3 separate regions of the Homo sapiens genome follow, and all the other regions are linked to region 2. The links come from fine-mapping of genetic effects on gene expression. A gene starts in region 2. Each other region holds a variant in brackets. All regions are shown on one strand. Distances are between the middles of the regions.

Region 1 (4,245 bases), 96 kb after region 2:
TTTTAATGGCATATTCTATCTTCCCACTTAAAACCCCTGAGGGTAGAACTATGTCACAATCATATTTGATTCCCTATAGCTAAGTACAGTTTCTGTCGCAGGATTGAACCTCAATGATACTTAATAACAGTAATATTATTTTGATAGATAAAAATAACATTTTTAAGAAATAGTACCTGCATATAGCAAGTTGGCTTTCCCGGGATATTTACTCGTTCCCTGGTTGCATTACCCAAGCGAGGATGAAAAGTTTATTTCTTAATGAATGTCCCATCAACTTAGTCTAAGCAAAAATTCTATGAGAGAGATTTGTTTACTCTAAGGAAATCATTTTAACTCTTTCAGAAAGTGCCTTCTTCTGGTGTCCCTAAAAGATCTCTAATTTACCAAGTGAATTAAAAAATGTATTTTCTCTTAAACTCTAAGATTAGAAACATTACTTTATCCCCCAGCTTTTTTCTCAACCCTGTTGAAACAGCTTTCTCTGTTGCCATTCAGGGGTTGGTTTCAGCCAGAAAGTTACTTCTCATTTTTAGAATGCAGGGCACGTTTAAATAAGGATCGTTATCATTAATATTTATGAAGTGCTCAAAATGTGCCATGATTTTTATCCATTATCTCATTTAACTCTTAAATAATTTAACTCAATTAAGATGTTATTATCTCACAGGATCCCTTTGGCATAGGGAATATTATTATTCTTATAATATAGTTAAGGAGACTGAGTCTTCAAGGCACCATGTGGCTTTCCCAAGGTCACATAGCTAGAAAGTAGCAGAGTGAGATTTGATCCTAAGTCTCTCTGAATTTGAGACTTAACAACTACACCATAAAGTTTCACTCACTATAGATGGTGGCAGATGAACCTCATCATCAGTGAGGTCATCAGTGGAAGACAGTCCCCGTTTCCTTTTGAATACCTGAAGGATCAAGCTATGGACTGAGATGACAAAAGGCCTAACTCATCCACTTGCTCATCCATACACCCAATCTGTGATTATGGAAATGCTTTTAACGTCAACATTTTCTGTTTATAGTATGTACAATTAGATTAAAGTTGAGTGTTTGGCAATTTATGCTCAGTGTGAACAACAAATCCAAATGCACTAGGCTAAGAAGCAGAATCACATTCGCACAATAAAATGTAAACAAGAAACACAAGAGAGTCAGAGAGTCATATTCAGAGAGGGTGGGCTTGTTATTGTTTTTTGTTTTTTATTTAGAACCTGCTGATTAAAAAAAAGACCCAGATGCACAGGATCTCTGACTAAACAATTGCTGTGTGGTAGCGGGAGGTCTGGGTGGCTCATTCATCACAGCACGGAAGGCACCCTCTCAAGAACATGTAAACGGGATGAAGAGCTCTCCCGGAATGTTACAGCAAACATGTGCCAGCCCTCTTTGTTCTCTGTCTAGGGTCATTTCACTTGTAATGATTCATCTTAATCTTTCAGGTTCTGGAAAGCATAGGATACATCAGGCAGGAGGTACCCCATTTCTAAGCCTAGAGCGGAGAAGAAATCCTTTCTGGATGACCACACCATGGGGTTGAAAAAGCAGAGCAGAGTCCACAGTTCTGCGTAGATTATTTATTCAAAAAATCCCCAATAACTAACAGAGCAGAAACTGGATTTAGGAATCTAAATTAAAACTTATTTTGATGACCTTTGAGAAAGATACTTCAAAACAAAGATTTATTGCAAGTGTTAGCTTCTTTGCTCCTTGAAATAACATTCATTACTTCAGATTAAACACTGCTTGCTATTTAGTCTTCAGTTCTACAGCCATATTTCCGGAATACGTTTTCTGTTTTTGCCACAGATTTTGGTCTGATTTTCAATGAAAAAGGAATTTAATGGGTCATGTGTCTTTAGAATTCTTCTTGTAGCTTATTCTAAGTTTCTCATATCCCGTCTCCTAGTCTGTCTGAACTATTTGCCCACCATAGTGAGTGATACATAGTTTCAAAACATCTAATCTAGATACTGCTCAATTTAAGGCAGAGATTTCCAGATAAGAAGCCATTTGGCCTCGATATAGGGATCAAGACTATGGCTTTCCTATCAGTAACATTATACCCTTCTGCAACAAGCACTAAATTTAACAAGTGACTGAGGCATTTAAAAAGAATATAATATTGCAACAAATTTATACTATATATAACCCCACAGAAAGAAGATCCATAAAATACCTAGGAAGTTATAGCACAAAGTAAACAATACACGAAAATTTTACTCAAATGTTGGTTCTGCCATTCAGCCGTTCATTCATGCATTCAGCAAGTATTTATTGAATGGCTGCTACATGCTAGCCAATATAATGGTGAACAAAACAGATATATCCCTGCAGTCACAGAAGTTACAATGTAGCAGGCAGGAGGGATACAGAGAAGTTAAACAGAAATCATAATACCTTGTAATAAATGCTATCATAATGGAGAAATTATAGTGTGCTGTTGGTACCTCAATGGAAGGACAACGCAGTGTGTGTGTGTGTGTGTGTGTGTGTGTGT[G/CTGTGTGTCTGTGTGTG]TGTGTGTGTCTGTGTGTCTGTTTGTAGGCTGGTGGTCAAAAAGGGCTTCTCATTCATGTTTATGAGTTTTAATTAGATAAATGATATAGGGGTAGTGGTGGGAAGACAAGGAACCAGCATGTACAAAGACCCAAAGATGAAAAGGAACATAACATTAACTCCGCAGTGTTTCAACAGTCTTCTAACATTTCACTCTTATTCTCTGTGACAGAAGCAGTGCCACAATCAAGGCCTTGGGTGAGACTGTGCCTGGAGTTGCCGAAAGCCTTTGCCCATAAAAGTTGCTTTTCTCTGTTAATAATTGTTCAGTGGTTTGAATCTGTCATTTATTGCACCCCCACTTAAAATGTGACCGACTTGCAGACAGGGAGCATAGCTCATTGTATTTCCCACAACCCAGCATAGCATTCTATATACATTGGAAGCTTAAGAAACGTTAGTGCTAAACAAATAGATAAATGGTAAAAAATGGTCAGCAACCAAACTGGAACTCCCGGAATTTTCAAGGGAGTAGCAATGTTTATCCAACAAGTTTTTCAGCTAATGTTACTTAAGTTTCAACTTTAAGAGCTTAGTCACAAAGATTCTCATTAGGTAATACCTTGGCAATTCAAATAATCACTGCCCCTCTGACTTGAGCTAGTTGACTTGGTTAAGGCCAAAATCTGAAGCTTCAAGTCCCATGGAAGGTTAGTTACCTTCAAGGAGAGAAAGAAGATCTGTTCATAGTCCTGCCCATCAGTCTGACCCTGAACTCTGGTGGGGCTAAGGGAAATAGCATTGCATAGTCTGTAGCCCATACGATGGGCTAGGCACTTACCTAGGGATGTTGATATGAAGATAAATAAGCAGTTCCTGCCCCCTAAGGAGGCTCTGGCACACAGTAGCTTCTCAAGAAATGCTTCTTGAGAAACTGAGTGAATACAGCCTCACATATTTAGGCAAATCACTTATAAAATATATTACAGTTTTGTTTTTATATGTGGGACTCCTTCCTGGACTATAGAAATGTTTGTATCCTATGGATTCTTTGTAGTCTCTGCAAAAAGCTAATTCCTCCTCTGAGGTTAAAGGAATCCTTACCATTGTTTTTGAAGACAGTAAGAGCTGCAGTAGCTGAAGCAGTAGCACTGAAGTGGGGATTTTCAGCTACTGAAGGGGCCTCAGTCCCACTCAATGGATACTGCAGCATAAGCCTCTGTTCCAATATTACCCTACCCTGGGAACAGCTGTTGGAACAAAAGAATTGCTCTGAGAGTCAGCGTGAGCAGTATCCCTAAATAAGTGTAGTCATCCTTTATAAGTAGCAGGTCTCCACTCCTGCCCTTAAATTGTCCAACTCCAATGCTAATAGTCACTAAGGAGAGTGCAGCACAGGCCCTGAAAGGAGCCACCAAGGACATTATTTCATGATGCAGAGGACAAATGTATGCTTTCTCCAAAACCTGGAAAATCAAGTTTATGTATGTCATGTTTATTCAAACACACTTGAAATAAGGTCTCCCTCTCCTCTGGCAAGGACACTTTCAGATCTGAGGGAGTGAAGTTCTTTTACCCACCCCAACAATACTGGTCAGAACTCTGACTTTTGAGTTCCTTGAGTCATGAGCAGGCTGTTCACTTCCAGGGCACTTTCCTCAGGCTTCTTTGGCATGAATTGAGGTCAGGTTACAGCTGTCTCCTGGGTGATAAAAGCTGCTTGGCTTCTCACACTTTTGGATGAATCATTGGA
Region 2 (4,245 bases):
AAGGTCTCAACTCTAACCACTATTACAATCAAATGCGGAAAGGAGACAGAACTGTTATACATAATGAGAAACAGACACTCTTGGAGAAAAACCTCAGGCAAGATAATTAAAACCAGAAGCGTCTTCATTTCTCTTTCTTAAATCTTCAACTATTTGGTACTAGTGGGCAAAAGACAAAGGAGCTGGAAATTCTTTCCTATGTGAAGAAACATGGTATTTTTCATTTTTCCAGCAATAATTTCTGTCCCTCATATTCTGTAAGAAATGTTCCTCTAATCCACACAGTTCGATGTCAGGTAACATAAGAACTTGCTACTTTTCCCTGTATTTACATAAGGGAAGCTTTCAAGGAGCTCGGGAGGCTGCACAGACATAAACTATGCACATACAACCAGCATAATTGAAAGCAGCCGGCCAAGCACAGTTTCTTGGGAAGCTTGAGCAACACATGCGGTTTGTTGCAGAATCAATTAAGGTTACTGGGAAAAGTTGAGCTCCGGTACAATAAAACGAAACCAAAGTAATTATAATCAAATGAGGTCTTCATGAAGACATGACCGTAAATGGGTTCAGTTTTTTAGAAAGAGAGGCCATCAGTAACAAAAGGCAAATGATTTATGTCTGGTTAGTTTTTTACTCCTCTTGCTAACTTTGTTTGCTGAATGGAGAATGGAGTGGGATGCATTTTGTCAGGCTGGTAAACTAGGGACATCCACTCACTTTCATGAGGCAAATCTAGTTCATTATATAAATATCTTTGAAGTTGAGCGGTTGAGCACCAAGGCTTCATGGCACCAAAAAAACCAAAAAAAAATCCTAAATGTGTCAACACCAAAGTCAAATGATTGAAATGTTTCCAGATATTAACAATTATGTCTAAGAAGAACACTTTTATACTAATACATATTACTAATTATAGATCTACTTAATGTTTAAACTAATTTTAAGCATCAAATTGCATAAGAATAAATGAATAGAAAATCCCTGAAGGATGGAATTCATAAATCAATCAGACACATAAGCAAGTAAACATGTAAGGATGTAATCAAATGGAAATATTTTTTAATAAAACAAAAAGAAACTTAGAAATGATCATTTTACAGCTAAGGAAACCAGAGCCCAGAGAGGTTGAGTCTTATACATGGTCACTGTGTTTGTGGCAGAGGTAGAAATAGAAGCCAAGATTTGGATTCCTGCTCTCTCTCATGTTGGCCTTAGCTGTCCCTAGCTTTCCTGATGTTGTATGTTCTTTAGCCAAGAATCTGTACATGAATATCCATTTTAAAACTTTTTTTAAAATATCATTTTTAAAAAGTGATTTTAAAGTAAAATTGAGAGAAAAACAAAGATTTTCTAAAGCACTCACAGTAGATCTCCACCTGGATTCCTTTTTCCAATTTCCTAGATTCACAAGTTGCTGTGCACAGGTAAGAGTGTTCGTTCCCAAAACTAACAGGATTCATTGTCAGCGTAGATGTGGTCCCCTCATTCGTCACCTTCCCATTCAGTGGACTATCTATCTGGGTTCTCCAAGAGAAAAATGGGGACTCACAGCCTGTGGTGCTGCAAGTCAATGAGACGGAGTCACCAATCTGAGCAAGATATCTAGATTCTGGGGTGGTCTCGATTTTAAAAGCTTGAGCTGCAAAAGCAAAAAAAGACAGAAGCAAATTTACCACTAGTTTGTCTAGTATTCTCCTCCTTCTTCTCTGTATAATGTCTAAAATATGATCAGACTGATCTCTTTCCTAAGCTGCTTCAAACTAACTGCAAGGTAGCCAAAAAGCACCGAAGTCACTGCCAAAAAAGTTTATGGAATCATCTTCAGTAGAGAGAATTCTCAGTTCCAACCTTGATGCCCATTTATCAAAGCTGTTTTGTTATTTGCTAAGTTTGACCTCATTGTCAAGTATAGGAAACTAAAGAGACAGACCGACTAGAGACAGAATCCAAATTACTCAATTGCCTTTGGAAAAAAAGATACCAAAAACATCAATTTTCAGCTCTAACTATGACAGTACAATGGTATATAGCAAAACTCAATTGCATATTAAAAGTTAGACTAAATTAACTTTTCCTACTGTTTAAAATCCTAGTGTCTTTACTTCACTACTATCGCAAAACTGACTGAAGCCAAAACCAGGGCTAAAATTGAATGCTAACATTTGAAACAGATGAAGGGAAATAACTTACAAGCTGCAAACATTATCCAAAGTATATTTGAGGCTCCAAGGATCACGACCATCTTCCCAGGCATTTTAAGTTGCTGTCGTGATGAGAAAATAGTGGTTCCAAAACCCTTATTTGTGTCCCACCTGTGTGTGCCTGGGAGGGTATTCAGCTCCTGAAGCCAGTGAGGCCCGATGCAGATACCGCGGAGTGAAATAGAAAGTCTGTGCTTTATAAAGGGTCTTGTTGCAGAGGCGGAGGGAAATCCCTTCAAGGGGAAACCCAGGGCAGAGCCAGGGAAAAAAGTTTAACAGACACCCAGCCAAGTTCCACTATTAACCCCTTCAGTTGCTCTCACTGCTGAAGCTCCTCTCTCTGTCCTGGCAAAAGAAGACACTTCCAAGACTATAAAATACAGGCTTTTCCTCATCTTCGACTCCAAAAGGCTATCTTTACTGGAAAGATAAAGGACAATGCTGATTGCAGAATGAAGCTTTCTGAATCCAATGTGGGTTAAGGGGGTGGGGAGAGAAAAAATGGAGACAGAGTAGTAAATTCTACTCTGGTTTTTGAACTGGATAAATAACGACTATGCCATGTGAATTGATTTTCTCCATCAAGGAAATATGTTTGCAATTCTAAAAGAGATTAATTTTTTTCTCTTACAAGAGAAAGGAAAAAGTTATTTCTTTTGATGAGTCATTTTTTAAAAAAGGGACACCATAACTTCTTAGTTTTATATTTATTCATAAAAATAGTTCTTTTAGCAACAAACATCAACTTTTTGAAACTATTTTCTTGAGTAGAAAGTAAAGGACTGTAACTGAAATTGCTGCCAAAACAAGGGAAACAATTTTTTTTTGTTTTAGAAAAGTTACCAATAATTTGGTTAAATTGCTGGATAATTGGAATTTTTTTGCATACTTAAATGCAAGTGTATGGAATCCATCTGAAGTGGCAAATCTCTTGGGCTGTGAGATTTAACCGCAAACCCAGTTAAAAAATTAAAAATAATAGGTTTTTATTATAGGCAAGGGGACAATAACCAACTCTATGTTCCTTTTCCCCCCAGTGAAGTGCCTTTTTAAAAAAATCCCAATTAACTAACTGGCTTAGCCTTGCACACACATAGCCCAAGGCCTTGCAAAATGCTTGCCCATCAAAAAGAAACCGGAATAGCCACTTCCTTTTATTAAACACGTGCAGGTCTATCTCCCCCATTGGATCATCAGTTCCTCTCATGGTCAGGACCAGTTCTTGTTCATTGTTGTATCTACTTCTACAATATCTAATGCATGATTTTCCACTTAGTGGATACAAAAAATGCAATAATAAACGTTATACATTTGGAGAAGAAAATTCTAAATACTAGCAATAATATGTAAATACGGCATGAAAAAACTGTTAAATTCTACAAGAAAATTCTAAAGCTCAGAGACTCAATGGGATGTGTACAATAAACTTGTACTATATAACATTTGTACTCTGTAACAAAGGCCATAGCTGAGGTCTGGAATCTATAACTGTCCCTACCTGGTTGGAGAGGCTTCTGGATCTCCTCTTGGATACTGATGTGGCTCCCACTAAAAGACAAGGAGGGAAAAATAAGTTGGAGATGCTGTTCTAGGGTGTGGGGATATATAGGTATGACTTCACCTACCAAATATCTAGGGATCAGAAAAATTGATTCAGGAAATACTAGCTTATAAACAAGTAACCCAGAGGTCCTTTACAGTGTTTGTGTCATCATCATGTAAATTCACTACTTAACTTCAGAATAGATCAAAAGGGTATTATGGAGTTTTAATATGTTCCTTTGAGGCTCAAAGACAATGGCCAATAGGATCCTTGGGATCATTATGACCAAGCTATGTTGTTCTGAGTTTGGATATGATTCGAAGCTTGCAACATTGGAGAAATGCCTAATCTATTCATTTAACTCATAGTGGTCTTGGCAAATGTTTGATCAAGTCCCTCACTATATCTTTGAGTTGGATGACATCTGAAGTCCTACCTGCTCCTCCCAGGTTGAGAGGATTGCACCCTCCTCGGTGGCCTCACTACAACAAGTGCATA
Region 3 (4,245 bases), 26 kb before region 2:
TAAAATGCTCTCTCCTGATAGCATTGTTCTTCACTAAAAAACCCAGACATTTGGTTCCATTCAATTTGTTATACTCTTCTCAAGCAAGCCTTGCAGATTAGCCCCTTTTGAGAGAAACCATGCTCTTCAATAGCAGCAAAGCCTGAAAAGCCAGGGCACACTTTTTTTTTTCTTTTTTTTTTTTTTCAGAAGTGAAATTTTCACTATCATTGTGACTAAAACAAAAGCTTTTCCCAAGAGCATTACAAATGTTCCTTTTCTCTCTGCAGGGAAGCCTGGCCATTATGAATCCATAGCAGAAATTACTTGTTAGTGTTAGGATTAGTTTAAATATTTTATTTTTCTCCTCAAGACTCCATTGAAGTTGATTAAGCAAAGGATACAAAAAAGATTCCCTAGGCCTCTGTTTGGCTAAATGTAAGAAAACTTTATCTAAAATAAAGTGAGGGGAAAAAGTTACCCATTGGAAGGGATCTTAAAGTTTATCTGGCCAAAACTCTTAATTTTACACAAAAGAAAACTGAAGCTCCTTAATATATAAGATGATTGACCCCAGTTATTGCCTTCCCCAGTAATTTTAGTGGTCACTTTGATTGGTACTAGCATATTCCCCAAATCTGCAATTAGCAGAGCAAAAGAGACATTTCTGAGGATTCAATATGGGAAACAGACTTTAAAAAATTTCTTTGTTAGATCATTATTTGAACATGCATTTCCTCAAGAAATGTTTGTGAGCCTGTATAGACTTTTCTTTATTTGTAAGCAATCTTGATTTCTGTCTGATAATTTTCCTACATTATTCATCCAGAGCAGAAAAGGTGATGGTGATGGTTACATGATGTAGACTGCCATGAATTTTTTCAACCTGTTATTTAGTCATGGTTTGACTACCACAAAATCAGAATAAGAGATTGCAAGTTTCCCATAAATTCAGAAAATATTCTAGCAGCTGAGAACCAATACTATCAAAAGTCTACAGTGAGATTTGAATCCATTTCTAAGAAAACCAGACAATGAAATCTATGAGGTTACTAAAAGTTTACTGATATAATATTATAATATTATGAAAGTGCTAGTGTATCTCCACTGAAATCAACCATTTACTTCCTTCCCAGTAGAATATTGGACAAATAAATGAGATAGTTTCATATTCCGATTTATAAACAATATCTGCTGCAGAGGGAAAGCCCTGGCAAGTATCTTCTATGCTTCACTTTAATGGCAGTCAGCCAGAGAAGGTGATTGCATCCAACAGCAATCACTCCCACTTCAGAGACCAGGAGAGTCAGGGAAAAAAGTTTTCTTCTTCCCCAAAGTTGTCAGCTACCATCCAGGTCTAAGACTTGCCTGCCTTCCTTTACCCATCTCATTTCTGTGACGTCCCTTTAAAGGCTCGCTTTCTTTCTTTCCCTCCCTTCCTTCCTTCCTCCCTCCCTCTTTCTTTCTCTTTCTTTCCTTCTTTCTTTCTTTCTTTCTTTCTTTCTCTTTCTTTCCTTCTTTTCTTTCCTTTTTCTTTCTTTCTAGACAGGGTCTCACTCTGTCACCCAGGCTGAAGTGCAGTGGTGTGATCACAGCTTACCACAGCCTCGACTTCCTGGGCTCATGTGGTTCTCCCACCTCAGCCTCTTGGGTAGCTGCGAGTACAGGTATGAGCCATCACTCCTTGCAAATTTTTTGGTACTT[T/A]TTGGTAGAGATGGGGTTTCGTCATGTTGCCCAGGCTGGTCTCAAACGCCTGGGCTCAAGTGATCTGCCTGCCTTGGCCTCCTAAAGTGCTGAGATTACAGGTGGTGAGCCACCGCGCCCAGCCTAAAGCCCCTCCTAACCAAAATCAGCAAGAATAAAGAATCTAACCCTGTCCTTAAGGGGACTTTATAGTGCCCTGGGTTATTGACAAGGGCTAGGACTCAGCAAAACTTCAGGTCATGTACAGCATCTTACTCGAAAATGAAAAGGGTTTATAGGCAGCTGTTTACTAGGCATCCATCTCTAGGCAGTGATGAGCACAGCTGACTTGGCTTCCCTGCAAAGATGTGATGGTTTCTAGTGTAAGGCAAGTATGGTCTCTCTGAATGCCTTGGCTCAGCTTGCAGGAGTCTTCCTCGTGTTTGCCATTCTCTCTGTGTTGAAATCTCTCCTTTATCTGAGGCCTCTCTATGCCACGTTATCCCTTTGAACACAAGTTATACTGTCTCCTATAAAGTCTTATCACATAACTCTCCTTCTCATTACCCAGGATAGATGAAAAGTGGGAGGGAGGTGGGCAAGGTAATTTGCTTCTCTCTTTGCTCTCTTTCCAATGCATACACTCTAATCCCCCCATCCGTCTAGGCTCTTGATTTTCAAGAATTTGCCTATGAAATGTAAATTTTTATTAAAAATTCCACCACCCAGATCAAGCAACAGAACAAAAACAGAACCCAAAAGGAGCTCTTCTACTCCTTCTAGTCACTGTAACCAAAGGAGTAACTAATATCCTGACTTTTAACACCATGTATTAGTTTTGCCTGCTTTTGAGCTACATATAAATGAAATTATATAGTATGGTCTCTTTTACCAATTGTTTCTTTTACTTCTTTTTGTGAGAGTCACCCATGTTGTTGTATGTAGTCATAGTTCAAGAAACTACCTTTGAAGTCTAAAAAGAGTTCATTAACTGTTCTATTTGCATTTTTTGTACCGATCTGAAATCTTCCATAGCAATGTGGATATTTGTGGTAAAGAGGGGACAGATTGGAAAAGTCAAAGAAATAAAAGAACAAAACTTAACATTTCCAGATCTTATTGTCAAAAAAGGTACAATTTTTAAAATACTAGTTTAATGTATTTGGGGATATATCCACAGTATACATAATTCTATTTTATGTATTAAATGTGTATATATGATATCATAGATTCTTTTTTTTTTTTTTTTTGAGACGGAGTCTCGTTCTGTCACCCAGCCTGGATTGTAGTGACACGATCTCAGCTCACTACAAGCTCTGCCTCCCGGGTTCACGCCATTCTTCCGCCTCAGCCTCCTGAGTAGCTGGGACTACAAGCGCCCGCCACCACGCCCAGATAATTTTGTTTTTGTATTTTTAGTAGAGACGGGGTTTCACCGTGTTAGCCAGGATGGTCTCGATCTTCTGACCTCGTGATCTGCCCGCCTTGGCTTCCCAAAGTGCGGGGATTACAGGTGTAAGCCACCGCACCTGGCGATTCTTTTTAAATATTTTATTTTTTACAGCTTTATAGAGGTATGATTGATATATAATAAACAGCACATACTAAACTATACGATTTGATGTCTGACATATGTGAAATCCATGAAACTATCACCACAATTAGTATTATAAAATATCCATCATTCAAAAATTTTCTTTGTGCTCCTTTGCAATTTATCCCTCGCTACCTCCCATCCTGCCCCAAAGCAACCACTGATCTGTTGCCTTTTGTTACTCCGGATTAGTTTGTAGGTGGGCTTCATTTAATCAGTTGAAGTCCTGATATTAAAAAAAGGCCCTCGTTTTCCATTTTCAGGAAGAATTTATGTAAGATTGGTAATATTTCATCTTTAAATGTTTGGTAGAATTCACCAATGAAGTCACCTGGGCCTGGAGTTTTCTTTTGAGACCACACATTTAACTTCTTTATTAGATATAGAGCTATTCACATTGTCTATTCCATTTCAATGAGCTTTGATAATTTGTTTCTTTCAAGGAATCTGTCCATTGTTGTCAAATTTATTGGCATAAACTTGTTTATAATTTTCTTATTTTCCTGCAAATGTCTACATGATCTGGAGTGATGTGTTCTCTCTCATTCCCAATATCAGTCTGGCTAGAGGTTTATGAATTTTGCTATTTTTCTCAAATAACCAGTTTTGGGTTTTATTGAATCACTGTTTGCCTGTTTATTATTTTTAATGTTATCTTTAAATTTTCCTTTTCCCTGATTACTTTGAGTTTTATTTTATCTCCTTTCTCTAGTTTCCTATGTACAACTATAGATCATTGATTTGAGACCTTGTTTACAATGTAGACATTTAGTGCTATACATTACACTCTAAGCATTGCTTTAGCTGTATATCACAGATTTTTAATGGGATGTGTTCCCCCTTTCCTTTAGATCAAAATGCTTTGTAAAGATCTTTCAGTTATTAAAGGCATAATAATGTTTTATATTATAAACAACTTAATGGCAGTAAACCCAACTGAAATGAAATGGATAAATTTCCTGAAAGACACCAACTACCACAACTTGCTC

Alleles and levels. Positions count from the first base shown, and alleles are read on the strand shown. Sizes are in standard deviations (SD) of each study's normalised expression. Not every link is listed here.
In carriers of allele CTGTGTGTCTGTGTGTG in region 1, the expression in monocytes after interferon gamma of the gene that starts at base 2,376 in region 2 tends to be lower than with G alone (moderate effect, 0.74 SD a copy in Fairfax 2014).

Evidence for each region. PIP is the estimated chance that this variant, and not a neighbour inherited with it, causes the effect. A credible set is the group of variants that fine-mapping cannot tell apart.
Region 1: its variant is the best candidate, but not a certain one, in a credible set for the expression of VCAM1 in monocytes after interferon gamma (Fairfax 2014, PIP 0.90).
Region 3: its variant is the best candidate, but not a certain one, in a credible set for the expression of VCAM1 in whole blood (TOPMed, PIP 0.85).

Annotation. Positions count from the first base shown.
Region 1 is chr1:100,622,226-100,626,470 of GRCh38, reverse strand. No RefSeq gene overlaps it. Among named protein-coding and RNA genes, the nearest start is that of LINC01349, 23 kb to the left of the region's middle. RefSeq lists a silencer at 3,592-3,890. The variant G/CTGTGTGTCTGTGTGTG (reference allele first, on the strand shown) is at 2,513.
Region 2 is chr1:100,717,873-100,722,117 of GRCh38, reverse strand. It overlaps VCAM1 (vascular cell adhesion molecule 1), which reads right to left and starts at 2,376. Exons shown (of 9, transcript NM_001078.4): 1 at 2,194-2,376; 2 at 1,367-1,642. The coding sequence starts at 2,257.
Region 3 is chr1:100,743,747-100,747,991 of GRCh38, reverse strand. No RefSeq gene overlaps it. Among named protein-coding and RNA genes, the nearest start is that of VCAM1, 26 kb to the right of the region's middle. RefSeq lists enhancers at 1,797-1,846, 1,937-2,026. The variant T/A (reference allele first, on the strand shown) is at 1,684.